3 linked regions of the Homo sapiens genome follow. The gene in region 1 interacts genetically with each later gene. Each region holds a gene or a part of one and is shown in the gene's direction. Other genes may lie near its edges.

Region 1 (7,035 bases):
TTTTCTTTGTAGACATTCTAGTTACATGAAATCATTGTATACATTTTATACATTTACAGATCTAAAATAGCATGCTGTTTCCTCTTGGTTTACATGAAATAATTGAGAATTTTCTAGGATTGCTTTTTGTATATTAAGTAAATTCTATGTTTGCTATTAATACTTAAATATTCGATGTAGAATCAAAGGATTGATATTTCAGAACACTGAGAAGTACATAAAATCTGGATCTAAATTTATAATTTAAATTTATAATTTAAAGCTATTGTATTAAATAAGTTTATCAGTTAAAAACTGATAAAGAGGTATTAGGATCTCCAGTGTGACTCAGGAGAGAGTTGAGGGTAAAAGAAATGGAGTTAATGAGAGAGATCAAAATATAAAAAGATAACTGATAAAAGAACTTTCATAATAAAACTGTTTCACGAAGGACCTCACAGGCATTTGTGGTTTTGTACTGTGAGACTATATGAAGTTTAAATCTGAGCCAGGTGTGGTGGTACATGCCTGCAATCCTAGCTACTTAGGAGGCAGGAGGATTGCTTGAGCTCAAGAGTTCCAGGTTACAGTAAGTTATGATCTCACGCCAGGGCACTCCAGCCTGGGTGAAAGAACAAGACCGTATCTCTAAAAAAAGTTAAATTATAAAAGAAGTATAATCTGTAAAATATTTAGTGAAATTGGCTTAGATTTGCCCAGACTTCCCCTTTGGCATTATATTTCAGGAATGAGAAAAATAATTAGCATAGCATTTAGAAGAAATGGGGGGAATTTCAAGGTTACTAAATAAATCAGGGTTAGTATAAGAGGAAGCAGAGGCTTTGAAGTCATGGCTTGCATTCTTGATTTGGATATTGGTTTTCTCTTTATAATTTTTCTGTGATGACGCCTTTTGCCACCTAACACAGGTAAATGTGAGTTAAGCCCCATATGTGTTAGTGGACTCCTGAATCTTTTGTTGGCATTTGCTTCTGTTTGCCTAAGCACATTTGTAAATGTCTAAGCTTCAAATTAAGAAGCTATGTGGTTGCTACCTGATTATATTTAGTCAATAAACTTACTTTCATATTTGTTTTAGAGCCAGACATAGGCATGCCTGAACCAGATGCTCAGAGATTCTTCCATCAACTCATGGCAGGGGTGGTAGGTATAGTTGTCTATTTCCCTTTTACTTAAAATTAGAGTGAATACATTACATTACCAAATTCTAGTGTGTTTCTCTCTGCATCCCTCTTAGGTTTATCTGCATGGTATTGGAATAACTCACAGGGATATTAAACCAGAAAATCTTCTGTTGGATGAAAGGGGTAAGTTTAGCATTTTATCACTACCTAAAATAAAATAAAATAATTACCTAAATTATTTTAATTACCTAATTATTTTAATATAGCCATACAAGGCAAAATCAAGTCTTTTTGCATTACTGGAATTTCAAGACAAGATCTGAAAAATCAAGGAAATTTTGGAGACTTCGTATATTTGGAAATCACAAGTCTCATTTTGCAATACAAGTGCGGATCAGGTAGAGAAATCTGACCTAGGTGCAAGCCTAGCTCACTATATGTATAAGAATAATTTTTTTTTTTTTGATACAGGCTCACTGTGTTGTCCAGTCTGGGGTGCACTGTATTATCACAGTTCACTGCAGCCTTGACCTCCTAGGCTCAAGCAATCCTACCATCTCAGCTTCCCGAGTAGCTAGGACCAACCACAGGCAGGTGCCACCATGCCTGGCTAATTTTTGATTTTTTGAAGAGGTGGAGTCTTCCTGTGTTGCTCAGGCTAGTCTTGAACTCCTGGACTCAAGCAGTTTACCAGCCTTAGCCTCCCAGAGTGTTGGGATTATAGACGTGAGCCACCATGCCTGGCCAAGAATAGTTTAAAATAATCCTTTAATGGATTAATAAAGGGAAGTTCCTGTGGAATACCCTGGACCTTAGTCTTGTCCTGTTCACTCTTTTTTTATGTATGACGTGGATAAAAATGTAAGAAATTTAGTTATATTTTCTGAATGTCATCAAATTGAGAAGGATGGATAGCGAAAGCTTTAAGCTTACAGGGTCAGAATCAAAAAAGAAATGTCAGCTGTATGAGGCAGTAGTTTTTGTCTGGTTTAATGCTTTATTCTTAGTATTAGAATAGTGCTTAACAAATGGTCAGCTTTTTTTTTTTTTTGAAACAGAGTCTTGCTGTGTTGCCCAGGCTGGAGTGTAGTGACATGATCTCGGCTCACTGTAACCTCTACCTCTCTGGTTCAGGTGATTCTTGTGCCTTAGGCCCCTGAGTAGCTGGGATTACAAGCCTGAGTCACCACACCTGGCTCATTTTTATATTTTTAGTAGAGATGGGGTTTTGTCATATTGGCCAGGCTGGTCTCGAGCTCCTGGCCTCAAGTGATCTGCCTCCCTTGGCCTCCCAGAGTGCTGGGATTATAGGTGTGAGCCGCTGTACCCAGCCTATACATGCTTTTTTCTTATGTGCATATGGATTTTACTTTTTACCCCTTTAAACTGAGTTTATATGACATAAAAATCTTTATTTTTATTTAAAACTTTAAAAATTCAGGTACACAAAAATTCTTATGTATTATAATGAAATGTAAATATATGTATATCAACCCACCTGGTTTAAAAATACAACATTATTCGTATATAAGAATGCTCACAGTGGTGATGTTTTTAATATAGCAGGAAACTAACCCAAATGTCTGTCAACAATAAATTATGAAATGCATGGCTTTTCAAGCCATGTCACAAGCAGTGACACAAGCATGTCACAAGCAGTGACATGGATGAATTTCAGGTATATAATGATGTAGAGCAAAAAGAGACAGTTGCAAAAGAATTCATATGGTCTGATTCTGTTTATACAAAGTTCAAAAATATGTAAAACCTAGTATATTGTTCAAGTATGTAAACATGGAGAAAAAAACATGCAGAAAAGCAAGGGTATAATAAAACCAAATTCAGAATGGTCTAAGAAAGTAGGGGAGGGAATGTATTTAAGGAAGTATTTAAAGATTTCAAAGGAAATAGAGCATTGTTTTTCTAAAGTGAGTGGGTGTTTATTACATTGTTATTCTTTATATCTTGTATTAATATACAAGATATAATTCTTTGTTTCTATTTAATATTTAGGAGTCTTTTAAAAAAAGAAATAAAATGTTACCAGTATTTAATGTCCTCCTGTTTATTTCATCACAAATATATTCTTCCTTTGTTTTTCTAAGAGCTAAACACATTCCTACATTTAAATTTTATTATGTGCAGTTCTCTAACATAGCTGAGTATTATGTTGCAGACATAACAAAGTCCAAGGAATACTATAGTTATCCATTAGTATTTTAAGTGATTACTACTCATAAGTAATTTGAAACTCAATCTCAGTGGTTTGTCCAATAGTGTCATATTTAACTACTGAAAAGATAATCAACTGGGTGCAGTAGCTCATGCCTGTAATCCCAGAGGCTGAGGTGGGACGATTGAGTGATTCTAGGAGTTTGAGACCAGCCTAGACAACATAGACCCTGTCTTTATGAAAAATTAAAAAAAAAAATTAGCTAGACATGGTGGTGCACACCTGGAGTCCCAGCTACTTGGAAGGCTGAAGCAGGAGGATTGATCACTTCAGCCTAGGAGGTCAAGGCTGCAGTAAGCTGTGATCACATCACTACACTCTAGTCTGGGCAGCAGAGTGAGACACTTTCTCAAAAAAAAAAAAAAAAAAAAAAAAAAAGGGTAATCACAGTAGCTACCTCCTAAGTCAGATAGAGGTAAACATTTCATTGGTTTACATATTGTGTGAATGTACTTGATTTTTAAAGAAATCAGTCCCCTATTTTGAGACATTTAAGTTGTTTCTAACTTATAAAATAGGACAGTGATGGCTTCTATCAATTTGTGTAAAAGGCCAATATAAAAATTGCGTCATGCTATAATATTTTTTATGCTATAATATTTTTTATGCCATTAGCCTTTTTGTCCCACTTACACACTATTTCATGTTAGTATGTATAGATATACCTTGTTGATTGTTTTCAAAACCTACCTCCACATTTTCCATTGTACAAATTTGGACATTTATTTACAAATAATATTGCTATGAATATTCTTATGTTTATGAATTTGTGGGATTATTTCTATGGATATAGAAGTGGGAATTGCTAGTTCAAAGAGTGAATGTTTCACAGTTTAGTATGTTTTGCCAAATTGCCCTCTGATAATAGAGGGCCTTTTCTAACTCTTAAGACTGGGTTACATTCCTTTGCTCTAAGATCCTATAGTGCTCTATATTTTTATAACCTTCATAACAGTTTTCTATTGTCAGTCTTCACTAATTTATCTATTACCTGCATTGGCTGGCATAGTGTCTGTCACTAAGTTACAGTAGATATTCACTAAACATAAGTTAAGTCCTGCCTGCAGTTTTTGTGTGTTGAAGATGGGAAGTTAGGGTGGAAGTTGGGTCTTCTGATATTTTTTTTTTGTACAGAGTTTGTCCTCTTTTTCTCAGACTCTCTACTTTGAAGAAAAAAATTACTGTGGTTTGTTGAATTTTGGTGTGTCTTCACATATTTTCTTCTGCCAACTGGGTTTGTTTGCTGCTGAGAAAGTTGTGCCTAACATACTACTGATGTTTCCTTCCTGCCCTCCACCCTACCTGATGAGGGGCCTTGCTTTACTTTCATCTCAGGTTTAGAGTGCTCTTTTCCAGAAGGGCAGCCCCTTCTGACTCCAGCCTCTTTCTTTAATCTGGTCCAGACTGTTCTGTGTGTTGATAATACTTCTTTTAAGTTAATAGAAGAGGTGAGGCCTTTTTCTACTTTTAGCATAGATGATGATTTATTTTATTTTTTTAAATTTCTTTTTGTCTATTTTGCTTATTTTAAGAGAAGTTCTACAAACCTTAAGTAACACCAGTGATTTTTTTTCAGTAAAACTTAATTCCTGTAAGTATATCTATTTGCAAAACATTTTTATTCAGTGTCATCTTTTTTTCTTTTGGTTTAGATAACCTCAAAATCTCAGACTTTGGCTTGGCAACAGTATTTCGGTATAATAATCGTGAGCGTTTGTTGAACAAGATGTGTGGTACTTTACCATATGTTGCTCCAGAACTTCTGAAGAGAAGAGAATTTCATGCAGAACCAGTTGATGTTTGGTCCTGTGGAATAGTACTTACTGCAATGCTCGCTGGAGGTAAGAGCTATTTAATCATGGTAAAACTCCTATAAAAAGTCAGATTAGTTATACTGAAATAAATGAAATAAACCAAGGAATTCATGTTTATATAATAGTTTTTGTTTTCTTTTTTAAGAGACAGGGTCTCACTCTTGGCCAGACTGGAGTACAGTGAGCTGTTATAGCTCACTGCAGCCTCAAACTTCTAGGCTCAAGCAATCCTCTGGCCTCACTCTTCCAAGTAGCTAGGACCAGTGGTGCCTGCCACAAGACATCTGGCTAAGTTTTAAAAATTCATTGTAGAGATGGGATCTTGCTGTGTTGTCCAGGCTGGTCTTAAACACCTGGTCTCAAGCAAGCCTTCTGTCTTGGTCTCCAAACTGTTAGGATTAAAGTAAAGACATGAGCCATGGTACCCAGCTTTTATAGTAGTATTTTAATAGTGTCTTGATCGGTTTGGTAACTGCTGTAACAAAGTATCATAGACTGCATAGCTTATAAACAGCAAATTTATTTCTCACAGTTCTGGAGGCTGAAAATATGAGATTAGGGGTGCCAACCTGGTCATGTTTTAGTGAGGGCCCTCTTCCTGATTTGCAGATGGCTGTCTTGCTGTGCTCTCTCATGGTGGACAGCCAAGAGAGCAGAAGCAAGCTCTATTGTGGTTTTTTTTTTTTTTTTTAGACCAGAGTCTTGCTCTGTCACCCACGCTGGAGTACAGTGATGTGATCTCAGCTCACTGCAACCTCTGCCTCCCAGGTTCTAGCAATTCTGTCCCAGGCTCCCAAGTAGCTGGGATTACAGGCATGCATCATCACACCCGGCTAATTTTTGTATTTTGAGTAGAGACAGGGTTTCACCATGTTGGCCAGACTGGTCTCAAACTCCTGACCTCAAGTGATCCCCCAACCTCAGCCTCCCAAAGTGCTGTTTTTTGGGTTTTTTGTTAAATGACCAGATGTTGTGAGATATTGTGTCTGTTTTTTGTTTTTTTGTGGTTTTTTTTGAGACAGGGTCTCACTCTATTGCCCAGGCTGGAGTGCAGTGGCACAATTCAAGGCTCACTGCAGCCTTGAGCTCCCAGGCTCAAGCGATCCTCCTGCCTCAGTCTCCTCAGTATCTGGGTCTACAGGCGTGCACCACCACACCTGGCTAATTTGTTGTGGGTTTTTTTTCACAGACGGTCTCTCCATGTTACGTAGGCTGGTCTTAAACTCCTGGGCTCAAGTAATCTGCCTACCTAAGCCTCCCAAAGTGCTGGGATTATATAATTAGTGCCCTATAAAGATACAATATTGTCCGGGCACACAAGCCCTTATTAGACATTAATAAGCTCTTAATAAGAGCACTAATACCATTTTTTGAGTGGTCCCATCACCAGGACCTAATTACGTCTCAAAGGCCCCACCTCCGAATGCCATTGCATTATGAGTTAGGATATCAACATGACTTTTGAGGGGGATACAAATATTTAGCACATTGCAAATAGTAACTTATTTATAATCCCAAAGATTTTTTAAGCTAAGGCATGCATAGTTATTAAATATCACAACACTTATCTCTCCTGTGTATCATGTAAACATTTGTGAAAACAAGACTAGGGCAAGAAATGATTCATCTGTTTTTTGGTTTTTTTTTTTTTGAGACAAAGTCTTGCTCTGTCGCCCAGGCTGCAGTGCAGCAGTGTGATCTTGGCTCACTGCAGTCTTGACCTCTTGGGTTCAAGTGATCCTCTCACTTTAGCCTCCTGAGGAGCCAGGACTACAGATGCACACCATCACGCCCAGCTAATTTTATTTATTTTTTGTAGAGATGGGGTCTCACTATGTTGCCCAGGCTGGTCTTGAACTCCTGG
Region 2 (7,035 bases), on another chromosome or scaffold:
AGCCTGGAACAGGGTGAGGGACAGCACAAACCTGTGCTAGGCCCTAGACTGCAGTGTTGAAATCACTTAACTCTAATTTATACATATACTTTCTTTATGTTATATATTCTCAATAGACTGGGAAGTATGTTTCTCAAACTTTAAATCCTCTGACAAACATAAACGAAGATTGTTTTTGATACGTGAAATTTCAAAATAAATACTGCACTGAAACAAAAGACAAAATACTGCTTTGCTTTTCAAAGTATAGTTCACTATTGAGCAACATGGATTTGAACTGCATGGGTTCACTCATACACAGATTTTTTGTTTTGTTTTGTTCAACCAATGCACATTTGAAAATACAATATTTGAGGGATGCAAACCCCTCAAATATATGGAGGGCCAAAACTTCACGTGTGGGTTCCGCAGGGCTAACTGCAGATTTGGGTATACCTGGGGTTCTTGGAACCCATCCCTCGTGTATACTGAAAAAAGACTTCTATTTGTGTAACTGCCAAGATTGATATATCTCCTAGTTACCCTCACCATCATTTCATTCCCATTGAGAAGAATTGATTTGAAGCTTAGCTTCATACTGATGTATAGTGAGAAACTCTATAATGTGCATTCTAAAATGTTGCTAAATTATGATAATCTACCTAATTTTACCTGATTTGCTACTTTTCTACTTATAAACAGTTGGAGTAGTGATTAAAAGTAGTCACATTATAGGCAAATGTATCATATATAGATAAAACTATTTTTATTGAATTTGTACCAGCATCTTGCCAAGTTTTGTGTGATTGAAGGGTATTTTTTTCTTACTGATTTTTTTGTGTTACATGCTCACTTTTGATCCTAACCCCACATGAGTTGCTATTCCTCTGTATTACAGATTTTCACTTAATGTCACAGAGACATGGCCTGAATCATTCCACTATATTTAAAGTTAAAATAGACACTGAAAATAAGTTTAGATTGTTTCATATAGAATAGAGAATTCTAAGCATTTAGAAGGTACCTTCTCATTTCTGTCATTTCTCCTTAAGTAGCTCCTTAAAAAGAGATGGTGAAATATAGACACTTCCTTTTTTCCTTTGAGTTACAACAAATACTTTGGAACTTTTGTTTGTAATTAATATTAATGTTGAAATATGTCATATTTCTCAGACTTTTTAAATATGAGATTTCTAGTTTATCCTTTTTTGACATATTAGTAAATACAGAATTATATAATTCAAAAAACAGGCACAGCTTTGTTAGCTTTTGACATTGTATAATATGATACTATCAAATTTTTAATAATATATGCCCAGAATAACCATATAATTTATCACCAAACCAAGGCATGGTTACGCTATGCATACATGTGCATTTATAATGGAAAATATAGGCTTCAGTTAAATTTATGCCCAGAAAATGGTATTTAAGAAAGAAATAGGCACAGTTTCAGTGTTGTTATCAGTAGTTAATGGACTGAAAGCCAAGAATAGTGATATTCAGATATTGCTATAATGTTCTTTTATTAGTCTCTTAACTGTGCCATTTTCAAGTGTTTTTGGCCTGAATGTTTTATTCAGGCTTATAAAGGCTATGTGTGCCATGCCCAGAATGGAGTTTTCCTTTGTCATACCAGTAGGAAAATGTACCTCCCTGAAGGGCTTGTGTGTTTTGTAAAAGGACAAAATGCCTTTATTGTTACTGAGAAGATTGAGATTAATAGGTTTAAAAGGTGTGTGTATGTGTCTGTATATGCCCTTTTTTTCTTTTTAAAGATATGGACTTGTTAAATCATTTTCCTAATTTCAGTGCAGTATATTTGTATTTTTCCCCCAGGTGCATGAATACCTCAGAAGTAAACTCTGTTCACTGTATGAAAATGACTGCATATTTGACAAATTTGAATGTTGTTGGAATGGATCTGACAGGTAATTAAGTCAAACCTCTCAAATATGAATTTTATTAAAGAAAAGAAACAACTATTTCATTCCAGGTCCTAACTTCGTCTCTAGGGATTCCTTGAAATAAATTTAGTAATTTTAGATATAGCACAGCAGTACTGGTAGATAAAAAATTAAAGCATTGTATTTCACTAGTAAATATAAAAGTACACAAATTCTAGGTAATCTAAATTATTTAAATGTCTAGAATTTTTTTTCTTTTATGAACCAGATCACATTTCTGACATGCTAACCATTAAAACGGTGAAGCTTCAGCTTGGTTGTTATTCTTCCATTAAACTGTTGCAGAAACATTCAGGCGGCAGATAACTCATTTGGATTGTTAGAAACACCAGGTTTTCCAGATGCTACATTAACACCTCATAGAAGTGGTCTTTCATATGTATGTTATGTATGATGTTAACCATAATATATATGGTTAAAATTTTAGTAGTAGTTATCCTTTGCTTTTTATAATTTCCAGTTTTGCCGTAGTGTAATTCCTTTTTCGTATTCATTTTTAGTAAAATGTTACCCATTATTTAAAGATAAAATAAGTCTTACTTTGAGTCTTTTAGTTGTCTATTTGCCACTATGTTCCAGTAGAACAGAAAGTAGTAAAACATAATTTTGGAATTAAACTGACATTTAAAGTAATCAGAGATACTTCAACAACAGTTTTATCACAGAGCTTAATATGATTCCGATTTCATGGTGTTGTGTGTTACAGAGGATAATAGAACTTATAGAATGTTTTCTTTCATCTGGCTTTTAAAATTATCTGATTTTTGACATAAGGACTAGTAAACCTAGAGTTCTGTTAATAGCAAACATTGCCTTTGAGTGCTACTACTAAACCTGAGGCATCAAGAAGAAAGAAGGAAAGGGAAGAAGAAAAAAAAGATTAACAAATTTGAAGAGTAAAGAGATACTGAAATAAGGTGTGGCGCACAGCTACAACCAGTTTTTCATTGTATTTAAGCAGATAATTAGCAGTTTTATGTTCTATTATCAGAAAAAAACGATTTGTTTTCCTTAATATTAAAAATTTTTTTTTAACTATTTCAAACTTAGAGAAAATTTGTTAGAATAACACAAAGAACTCTTGGCTGGCCTTGACCCAGGTTCCCCTGTCGCTGTTTGCTGTATCACGTGTTCTATTCTCTGTTTATTTATAGCTATATTTGTCCACATAGGTACGTGCGCATGTGCTCACATGCAACTTGTGTGCCACATGGGAATTTATTCCATTTACGCCAGATGTGATGCCCATAACCCTAAATTCTTGAATGAGTATTTCCTGACAAAAACACTTTCCAACATAGTGACAGTGCAGCATCCAAAGCAACATTCACAGCGATGCAGTACTGCCATCTAATCCGGAGACCCACTGAAACTGACCAGTTACTGTAACTATGTCCTTTATGGCACAGAACAAAGTCAGTCTGGTTCAGTATCCAGCATTTAGTTGTCATCTCTTGTTAGTCTCCTTTATTCTGAAACAGTTCCTCAGTCTCTCCTTGTCTTTCATGACCTTGGCATTTTGAAGAACACAGGCCAGTTATTTTATAGAATGTTTCCTCATGATTAGATTCAGGCTATACATTTTTGGCAGGAATACCACAGAAATGCTGGCCTAATGATACCTTTTTAAAGTTTCAAGTAGCCACAGCCTAGGTGTCCTAATACATTAAAACCACGCAAACTCAGATGATATGGGGATGTCAATCTAAATTACACAAGCCATTTTTAAAGAAATACAGTTTTGTCATCTTCAGGGGCACGCATTACCTTGAGTTTGATTAAAGTTGTTGCCAAGTGTCCTTTGGGAATTGACATTACTAAATAGATAATAATTTGTACTCAGTAGGTGACCTTTGTATGTAAGTATTACTTTGAACAATTCCCCAGTATCCTGTAATCCTTATTTACAATAATAATTTGAACCATTGGTAAGCAGCGGTAGCAGACCCTTTCCAAATTAAGAGCTTCAAACTTACGAAGTTTTGTTTGTGAGGATACTTAATAAATGTCGAGCAGTAATGGGTGGCAAATAGAACTGACAAGGAAGTGTCTTGGGCAGTTTAAAAATTTTGCCACCCCTTTAAACTGATACTTTTATAAATATTTGCTTAAAATGTTCTAAGTGGTAAAAGTAAAATGATGTTCTGTTAAGAAAATATTACAGCCTGGGCAACATAGCAAGACCCTGTCTCTACAAAATATTTAAAAATTATCTGGACATGGCAGCATATGCCTGTAGTCACAGCTACTCAGGAGACTGAAGTGCAAGGACTGCTTGAACCCAGGAGGTTGAGGTTGTGGTTGCAGTGAGCTGTGATTGTGCCACCACATTTCAACCCGGGTGACAGAGTGAAACCCTGTCTTGAAAAATACATATATATAGGCCGGGCACGGTGGCTCACGCCTGTAATCCCAGCACTTTGGGAGGCCAAGGCCGGCGGATCATGAGGTCAGGAGATTGAGACCATCCTGGCTAACGTGGTGAAACCCTGTCTCTACTGAAAATACAAAAAAAACTAGCCGGGCGTGGTGGCGGACGCCTGTAGTCCCAGCTACTCAGGAGGCTGAGGCAGAAGAATGGCATGAACCCAGGAGGCAGAGCTTGCAGTGAGCCGAGATCGCACCACTGCACTCCAGCCTGGGCAACAGAGCGAGACTCCGTCTCAAAAAAAAAAAAATTATACACACACACACACACACATTATGTACCACTTAATATTCTCAGGAGCAGATTATAACATAAGCATTTATTAAATGTGATTATCTGAACCAGACAATACCCTGAGAAGATTATTTATTTATGAGACAGAGTCTCACTCTGTCACCCAGGCTGGAGTGCAGTGGCACAATCTTGGCTCAGTGCAACCTCCGCCTCCCGGGTTCAAGGGATTCTCCTGCCTCAGCCTCCTGAGTAGCTGGGACTACAGGCACGTGCCACTACACCCAGCTAATTTTTTTTTTTTTCCGAGACGGAGTCTTGCTCAGTTGCCCAGGCTGGAGTGCAGTGGCACGACCTTGGCTCACTGCAAGCTCCACCTCCCGGGTTCACACCATTCTCCTGCCTCAGCCTCCCGAGTAGTTGGGACTACGGGTGCCTGCCACCACGCCAGGCTAATTTTTTTTGTATTTTTAGTAGAGACCGGGTTTCACCATGTTAGCCAGAATGGTCTCGATCTCCTGACGTCGTGATCTGCCCACCTTGGCCTCCCAAAGTGCTGGGATTACAGGCGTGAGCCACTGCGCCCGGCCCAAAAAATGTAAATCATAAGATAAAGCATTGGTTTCTTGTGAACAGCTACAGCTACTTCATGCGGGGTTCTTTTGTTTTAGAACCTGTGAGTTCCACAGATAGTTGCTCCTTTGAGAAGCTGGCTGGCCTGGTTGATCACATAGCCTGTAGTTGCAAAAATACTTAACAACGATAATTCTGCACTCCTAAGAAGTTTTACTTGAGGATGCTGTCAACTTTGCTGATAGTTTTGGTAGCCATAAAAAGAATAAGCAGAAAACCCAGTTAATTAGTACCGTATTTCTGGTTTATTCTAGTGATTGAGTTGATGTCAACAGCCCCTGTCCCTTAGTTTAAATCTGCTTTTGAAGTAGCTTCCTATGGTTTAATTGCCGAATCATTTTACTTGAAAACAATTTCTTGTTCTGCTTGTTTGACTGAGTGTACTGTCTATTTTCACAGTGTTGTCATGACTGGATCTTACAATAATTTCTTCAGAATGTTTGACAGAAACACAAAGCGAGACATAACCCTAGAAGCATCGCGGGAAAACAATAAGCCTCGCACAGTTCTGAAGCCTCGCAAAGTCTGTGCAAGTGGCAAGCGAAAGAAAGATGAAATAAGTGTTGACAGCCTAGACTTCAATAAGAAAATCCTTCACACAGCCTGGCACCCCAAGGAAAATATCATTGCCGTAGCTACTACAAACAATCTGTATATATTTCAAGACAAAGTGAATTAGGGTTGGCATTCCTAGCAGAAGAACCCACTTCCTGCTTAGTTGAGATAGTTGAATCTAGCATTCGTTCCTATAAAAGAGAGAGGTCCATTGTGGCGCCCCTTTCCAGTGTTTGACAGTGTGCCATTCGACAACACATTGTTATAGCTACATGGAGAAAGCTCTGTGGATTCATCACTGTGGTGTTCTCCATGTCTGCTAGCCATTTAGGTAAGGGTAGGGCACTTTTAATTTAAATGACTTCTTGCACCATCTTGCCTAATGGACTAGATTGGACTGTATCAACATTGATTTACTCCACTTTTTATGCCTTCCATTGTGATGACGTCAAACACAGTGAAAGCCTTCAGTCATGCTATGGGATTTAATTGTGTATCCTCATTACTGTATCATTTGTGGGGTACACCCCTTCCCCCTTTTTTTAAATTAAATACAGCTCATTCTTACTGTGGCTTGTAGCATTCCTCCTCTTCTGGCCTCCTGGACTGCTCCCCTTCATCTCTTACCCTTGCCCCCTCCACCCGGTCTTGGTGGTGGTATATTAAAAAAAGAAAGAATGAAAGCACACAAAATGAGTCAGTTTGGGGTCAGTGGTATAAAGGGGGTATATGTTGCAAACAAATGTTTTAGTAACAGTTGGCTGTAATCACTCCTCGCCGTGTCTGGCACTGAAAATAAGGAAAAAAAACCTACTACTGAATAAAAGTGACAAAGAATGGAGAATCTGGTTTTCTTTTTCTTTTTAACCTACCTCTTGTAGCCAATATTTTGTGTCATACCTTTGGGCACAGTGAAACAAAATGGGTTTTCATTGTTTATTGGTATTTTTGTTAATTATTTTTAACAAGTGTTCTTTTACATGCAGGAGGAGAGGTATTGGTTCTCTATGAACATATTTTGAATATAGGTTTTATTAAGGATTTCACAATCTATAAATGCTACTAGTTTTTTTTTTTTTTTTTACCATCATGAGGGTATTGGATACATTGTGTCTCTATTTAACTCATTATGTGTTAATGAAATTGTTGTAAATGGGAACCAAATTTGTAGAACTTAATTTCTACTTTTTAGAGTGCTTAATTTCATTTTTGCCTTACTAAATAGTCAAAGACTTATAAAAC
Region 3 (7,035 bases), on another chromosome or scaffold:
TCACCAACAAATATTGGGCTACTCTGTCCTAGGCATGGTCCTCAGCTGAGAGGTCGCAGCCATCCCAAGACAGAGGGGTCCTTGCCACATGGAGACTGCATTCTAGTAGGGAATACAGCAAACTGGCTGATAAGCCATATGACACACAATGTTGAGTAGTGATAAGGACCTGGGAGAAAAAGAAAGCCCAGGAGAATGGTGGAGGGGCCGTTTTAAGATAAGGCGGTCTGGGCCAGGTACAGTGGCTCACGCCTGTATCCCCAGCACTTTGGGAGGCTGAGGTGGGCGGATCATGAGGTCAGGAGATCGAGACCATCCTGGCTAACACAGCGAAACGCTGTCTCTACTAAAAATACAAAAAATTAGCCGGGCGTGGTGGCATGCGCCTGTAATCCCAGCTACTTGGGAGGCTGAGGCAGACGAATCACTTGAACCCAGGAGGCAGAGGCTGCAGTGAGCTGAGATGGCGCCACTGCACTCCAGCCTGGGCGACAGAGCAAGATTCTGTCTCAAAAAAAAAAAAAAAAGATAAGGTGGTCAGGGAAGGCCTCTCTGAGGAGGTGAAGCTTCAGCTGGCTCTAAACCAGGGGAGCGGGAGAGACGCAGTGTAGGACAGTATCGGGGAAGAGCAGGCCTGTGTCTTCTCCGGTGGCCTCAGGGAATGAGGGAGAAGGAAGGTGCTGGGGAGGCTGGCAAGGCCTGGAGGATGCAGGCCTTGTGGGCAGGACCTGGGAGTTGCGATGTCACTCTCCGTGGCAGGAAGCTACTGGGGCTTCGAGGGGAGAAGTGATATGCTTTGATTTACCTTCTTAAAAGATTGCCCCAACTGCTGGGTGGAGAACAGGATGACAGGGGCAAGCATGGAGACAGGGAGGCCAGTTAGAGATGGCGTGATTCAGGCCAGGATGGAGGGGTGAGAACTGGTATGCAGTTCCAAAGTAGAGCTGATAGGACTTGCCCAGTGTCTGGGATCTTATCCAGTGGATGCCCAGAGCTTGGGTCTGGGGGATGAAGTGGGTTTAATCTGCCAAGGGTTGGGGATGTCATTTGCTCCTGGAGCTCCCAAGGGACTTGGGGAAGGTTGTTCCCAACCCCTTTCTTCCCTTCCCAGGGGCTGCCGGGAGGCTATCAAAAGGATCGCCTATGAGTTTGTAGAGATGAAGGCCAAAGAGGGCGTGGTGTATGTGGAGGTGCGGTACAGTCCGCACCTGCTGGCCAACTCCAAAGTGGAGCCAATCCCCTGGAACCAGGCTGAGTGAGTGATGGGCCTGGAAGGGGCCATGCTGAGGGTGTGGCTGGGAGGCTCAGCTCTGAGACTGGAAGGGCGAACTGCTGGGAATCCCTGACCCAAGCAAGACCTTGTTCTTGCCCCCAGTCTGGTCCATGGCCTCAGAAAGATGGGTTTAACTCTGTCACAAGAGACGTGGTTCCCATCCTCCCTTTGCCGTTATGTTCTTACCTTGGGCACAAGTGTTTGGCTGTGTCTTGCTCTGGCCACAGGCCTGCTGTCCAGGAATGTTAACCTGCTTAGCCACCCAGGATTTCTGAGGGGTCTCCCTTGTCACTGATGCTGATCAGATCTCTAAAGGCCCTAAAGGTCCTGCTCTAACTTCATAACTGAAGTGAGTCTGGCCCATTTCTAGCCCCCTGCCTGGGCCCCCATGGATCTCTAAGTGGTATCACAAAACCACCCTGCCCCATTTTCTGAGCCATGATTCTGATACATATAGAATGTGAACATCATGGCAGGCCCAAGCTTAGCAATGCTGTCCATCTGGGGGTGGGGAGGGCCATGTTGACACCCCACACCTCCCACTAAGATCTAGGAGCACCCAGCTGCTTTAAGAGCTAGAGGGACATGCTAGGGCCTGGGGGCATCTCTGCCAGTCTTTCCTCTGAGGCAGTGGGTCAGTGGGGGAGGAGGGTCCTCCCCAAAGCCTCCTCTTCCTCCTCTGTCCCAGTCCCAGAGCTGCCCTTTAGGCCTTCCTTTTGCCTCAGGCCCATCCCTACTCCTCTCCTCACACAGAGGGGACCTCACCCCAGACGAGGTGGTGGCCCTAGTGGGCCAGGGCCTGCAGGAGGGGGAGCGAGACTTCGGGGTCAAGGCCCGGTCCATCCTGTGCTGCATGCGCCACCAGCCCAGTGAGTAGGATCACCGCCCTGCCCAGGGCCGCCCGTCTCACCCTGGCCCTGACCTCCTGGCCTAGCAGTGGGGCTGTACCTGATCTCCCCTGTGCCCCACAGCCCCATGGTGTCCCCTTGAGCCCACTGGCATGAACTTGGGGCTTCATGAAACAACTGGAGACCTCCTAGGCAGGCTCAGAACTTCTGGAGATGTTCTCCCCAGGGACACCATGCCTTTATAGCCACCCTGCAGGAAGCTCAACACCAAATAGGAACGTAACTATTGAAAAAAAAATCTAGGCTAGATTCTGATCAGCCCATAGTCCTCCCTCGAGACCCAGTGGACCAGGCCCCATCCTGTCTGGGCCTGAATAGGTCTGATTTCCAAGATTTCTGAGGGGTCTCCCTTGTCACTGACGCAGATCAGATCTCTAGAGTTTGTGCCTCATGGTGCACAGCCTCACTGTGTGATATTGGGCAGGTCACACTGCTGCTCTGGTTATGCACCAAGACACCTCAGTTGTGCACTGTCACAAGGAGATGATCACACTTACTTCATTCCTCTACCCTCAGGATTAGTAAGAACCAAAGAGCTACCTGCACGCATTTCCTCTAATCCTCGCAGCAGCCTGCAAAGCAGAACTACCATTGCTTAGTCCCATTTGACAGATGAGGAAACTGAGGTGGAGTGAGGTGCAGCCTCTTGCAAGGCACAAACCCTGGATTTGTATCCGGGGACATCTAGTTCCAAAGCCTGTGTTCATTCATTCTTTCTTAAACACTTCAGAATAACTTTATTGGTTAAGAGTACCTAATACATTAGCGAGATACTTCCCAATACTAGTGTGAGTTCTATTTTAGATGACGTGTTAAACGGTCCTCCGTTTCCTCATCTGCGCATGGGAATAAGCCTACCATGAGTGTTGTTGGAAACACCAGGTGAGAGAAGGGTCCGTGTCATTTACTGAGCTCAGGCCCCGTCCTTGGTGCTTTACACACATGGCCTCGGCAAAGCCTGGCCGTGACCCTGTGCAATAGCTGGCAGGGTTCTTTCTGAAAAGGGCGGAAACTGAGGCCATAAGCAGAGCAGTTTTCCGCAGGCCATGTGGTTAGGACATAGCAGTTAGGATTTGAAGACACTGAGCCCTGTTTTGTGCTGGCCTCCCATGGGGGGTTTGGGTGGGACAGCAGGCAGGTAGGCTGGGAGGTCTCTCCATGGTGCTGGTGACAGAGCCTGGGTGGGCATCTCGCCCACAGACTGGTCCCCCAAGGTGGTGGAGCTGTGTAAGAAGTACCAGCAGCAGACCGTGGTAGCCATTGACCTGGCTGGAGATGAGACCATCCCAGGAAGCAGCCTCTTGCCTGGACATGTCCAGGCCTACCAGGTGGGTCCTGTGAGAAGGAATGGAGAGGCTGGCCCTGGGTGAGCTTGTCTCCCACCCATAGTTGGGAGAAATCACAAGAACCAGGGACCATGGTGTCTCCTGAGTTCTGAAGTGTGTCTTTGTTGGGTCTTAAGGCTTGGAACTGGAATCCCCCTGGGCCAGGCGTGGTGGTTCATGCCTGTGATCCCAGCACTTTGGGAGGCGAGGCAGGAGGATTGCTTGAGCCTAGGAGTTTGAGACCAGCCAGGGCAACATAGTGAGATCCATCTCTGCAAATACAAAAAAAAGTAGTCAGGCATGGTGGTGCATGCCTGTAGTCCCAGCTACTTGGGAGGCTGAGGTGGGAGAATTGCTTGAGTCCAGGAAGTCAAAGCTGCAGTGAGCTGTGATAATGCGACTGCACTCCAGCCTGGGTGACAGAGGGAGACCCTGTCTCAAAAAAAAAAAAAAGGAAGAAAGAAGAAAGAGAAAAGAAAGAGAAAGAAAGAGAGGAAGGAAGGAAAAAGAGGAAGGGAGGGAGGGAGGAAGGAAGGAAAGAAGGAAGGAAGGGAGAGAGAAAGAAAAGCCTCCACTTGGTGTTGGGAGTCCTGTGCTGAGCCTGCTTCTGGCTGTGATTTGCTGTGTGAACCTGGGCAACACTGTGTCTTCTCTGGGCCTCTGTTTCTTCTATTGGGATGACTGAGTTGGAGCCGACATCTCAAAAGTCGCTTCCAGCGTGATGATGAATGGGCCTCCTGTGGAGGGTGCAGCATGGTGGAGAAGTCAGGGCTCTGGAGTCCCACTGCCCGGGCTCAGAGCTTGGTTCCACACTTCCTGTCTGACCTTGGTCACATTACTTGAATCTCCTGAGCTTCAGTCCTTCATCATAAAATGGGTGGGATAATAGTTGTGAATATTAGATAATGTATACAAGTCACTTCATATACTACCTGACACATGGTAACTGGCTAATGAGTGACAGCTACCACTTAGATAAGGACTTGGAGGGTAAAAGACCAGGTTTCCCCATGCTGTTGAAGCAGGCAGCATGACTAGGATGGTTCAATCTCCACAGCATGGTCAAGGCAGGGCCTGCCGGGGCCCTCCCGCTAGGGCACCCATGACCTGGCTCTCCCCCTTCCAGGAGGCTGTGAAGAGCGGCATTCACCGTACTGTCCACGCCGGGGAGGTGGGCTCGGCCGAAGTAGTAAAAGAGGTGAGGGCCTGGGCTGGCCATGGGGTCCCTCCTCACTGCCTCCTCCCATACTTGGCTCTATTCTGCTTCTCTACAGGCTGTGGACATACTCAAGACAGAGCGGCTGGGACACGGCTACCACACCCTGGAAGACCAGGCCCTTTATAACAGGCTGCGGCAGGAAAACATGCACTTCGAGGTAAGCGGGCCAGGGAGTGGGGAGGAACCATCCCCGGCTGTCCCAACTTCCTGTATAGAGAGGCAGAAAGCAGGGCGGGTCCCAGGAACTCGAGGGGTGGCCCCAGGCCCAGACATGGGGGGAGGAATCAGCATGGCCTGGGGCCATCCCTGCCAGCCACACACCTGCTCTTCCAGATCTGCCCCTGGTCCAGCTACCTCACTGGTGCCTGGAAGCCGGACACGGAGCATGCAGTCATTCGGTGAGCTCTGTTCCCCTGGGCCTGTTCAATTTTGTTCCAGGAAGGCCAAAGAGGGAAGAAACTTTAGGGATTGGGCATCAGCCCATGCCGCGTCTTTTAGATATGAAATCTCTTCGACACCCTGGGAAGCAGGCATTGCCGTCCTCATCTTACAAATGAGGAATCCGAGGCCCAGATGTGCTGTGGCTTGACTGGGATTACCCAGCTGCTAACCAGCAGAGCTGGGGCCCTACAGCTCATCAGCTGGAGCAGAACGCTCCATTACTCTGAGGGAAGCTTCCACACTTCCAATTCTCCCAACTCTGCCCCCTGGGCATCGCATAGGAAGCAGGAGTCCCTCTGGCCAGCATGTTCTCTCTTCCTGACACCTGGCCCTTGGGACCCCTGGGCATTCCCCTGAGCGCCATCTTGAAGCTTTCCACCGGAGGGTCTGTTCCACCCTGCCTGGCTCCCATCCTGGAGTCTAACCAGGGTCAAGGCCCTCCTTCCGTCCTGTCGCCAAGCCACAGGAGCAGTATCAGGCCTTAGGAAAAAGCCGCCTTCCCCAAGACAAGGACAGCAAGAACTCAGGGTGACCATGGTCAGGCCAGCACTTATCCATCTGCCAGGCATATGAGAAGGGGAGGGGCTTCGGCTCTGATGTTCTGATGACAAGGGGGTCTTGGGGCTTGCCTTAGGGACACGTGGCACCTGTGGAGGTTCTTGGAGGCATGTGGGTATACCATGGGCTGGAAAAAGATCCAGGAGTCATCTGCACAGATATGGTGGCTGAAGGAGAAGCAGTGGCCCCAGGAGGTGGTGGAGCAAGAAGGGCCTAGGATAGAACCCAGAAGGACAATGGTATTTAAGGGACCAGCAAAAGAGACAAGTAGGAGGAAAGTCAAAAGTGTGGTGTCACAGAAATCCAGGGAAAAGGTTTCAAGAAACAGTCAACAGTGTGAAATTCTGCTATGCAAGTCGATTATGGTCAGAGCTAGGAAAGATCCATTAGATACAACAAGATGGTGGTCAGGGATCGTGCCAAGAACAGCTTCCATGGTATGTTGGAGTAGCCAGCTCCCAGTGGGACTGAGGAACAAGCAGGGTAGGGTGCAGAGGGGAAGGCTGGAGAGGGTGGCAGCCGGAGGGGGATGTTGCTTTCTTGGCTCCCACCCCCACGCCCCCACCGGCTGCCATTCTGCCTGGTTCCCATGTCTGGCCCCTCTGCTGCCTTTGCCCAGCTCTGGTCTTCAGGATGGGCTGGATTCTGGACTTTCTGGTTACATAGACTTGAACAAGTCACCTAAGTTCTGAATTTATTTCCCCCTCTGCACAAGGATCAGATCTTTCAGATCTGTTTGAGGCTGCTGTGAGGATCAAAGGCGGGTGAACGTCAATGTGTTCTGACTATTTATGTAAGAGTAAAAGGAGGCTGATTCTCTCCTCCTCCCTCTTCTGCAGGCTCAAAAATGACCAGGCTAACTACTCGCTCAACACAGATGACCCGCTCATCTTCAAGTCCACCCTGGACACTGATTACCAGATGACCAAACGGGACATGGGCTTTACTGAAGAGGAGTTTAAAAGGCTGGTGAGTGGGTGTGAGCCATACTGGCCTTGACTCGGGTTTGGGAGTATGGTATCTACAGGTCCAGTCCGGGGCCTGGAATCTTTGGAGAGAGGGAGTGAGTCTGCCTCAACAGTCCAAGACAAGCCCAACCTAGACACTTTCCACAGAGAAGACATCTTTGTGTTGACGTCCTGACCTAGGACCAGGTTTTTGATCCTTTGCTTGGGTTGAGTGCCTTTAAAGAATCCAGTGAAAGCTGTCAACCCTCTCCCCAGAAAGGTGTGTGCAGCAGCTATGAAGTCTTGCACACTCTCTTCAGGTTGTTCTTAAATCCCAGGCTGAATAAGTCCATTCCTGCACGTG

The links. Genes that interact genetically often act in the same process or in processes that back each other up.
Region 2: changes in CHEK1 (region 1) and PPP2R2A are lethal when combined (synthetic lethality), as found in Homo sapiens cells (one study listed by BioGRID).
Region 3: changes in CHEK1 (region 1) and ADA are lethal when combined (synthetic lethality), as found in Homo sapiens cells (2 studies listed by BioGRID, with this or other methods).

The regions. Positions count from the first base shown.
Region 1 is NC_000011.10:125,628,154-125,635,188, forward strand, and holds part of CHEK1 (serine/threonine-protein kinase Chk1), read left to right. Parts: intron 1-1,078; coding exon 1,079-1,143; intron 1,144-1,237; coding exon 1,238-1,307; intron 1,308-5,009; coding exon 5,010-5,198; intron 5,199-7,035. UniProt on the Homo sapiens protein: Serine/threonine-protein kinase which is required for checkpoint-mediated cell cycle arrest and activation of DNA repair in response to the presence of DNA damage or unreplicated DNA.
Region 2 is NC_000008.11:26,364,497-26,371,531, forward strand, and holds part of PPP2R2A (serine/threonine-protein phosphatase 2A 55 kDa regulatory subunit B alpha isoform), read left to right. Parts: intron 1-1,818; coding exon 1,819-1,910; intron 1,911-5,637; coding exon 5,638-5,917; 3' UTR 5,918-7,035. UniProt on the Homo sapiens protein: Substrate-recognition subunit of protein phosphatase 2A (PP2A) that plays a key role in cell cycle by controlling mitosis entry and exit. Involved in chromosome clustering during late mitosis by mediating dephosphorylation of MKI67.
Region 3 is NC_000020.11:44,620,676-44,627,710, reverse strand, and holds part of ADA (adenosine deaminase), read left to right. Parts: intron 1-1,111; coding exon 1,112-1,255; intron 1,256-2,026; coding exon 2,027-2,142; intron 2,143-3,381; coding exon 3,382-3,509; intron 3,510-4,632; coding exon 4,633-4,704; intron 4,705-4,780; coding exon 4,781-4,882; intron 4,883-5,058; coding exon 5,059-5,123; intron 5,124-6,563; coding exon 6,564-6,693; intron 6,694-7,035.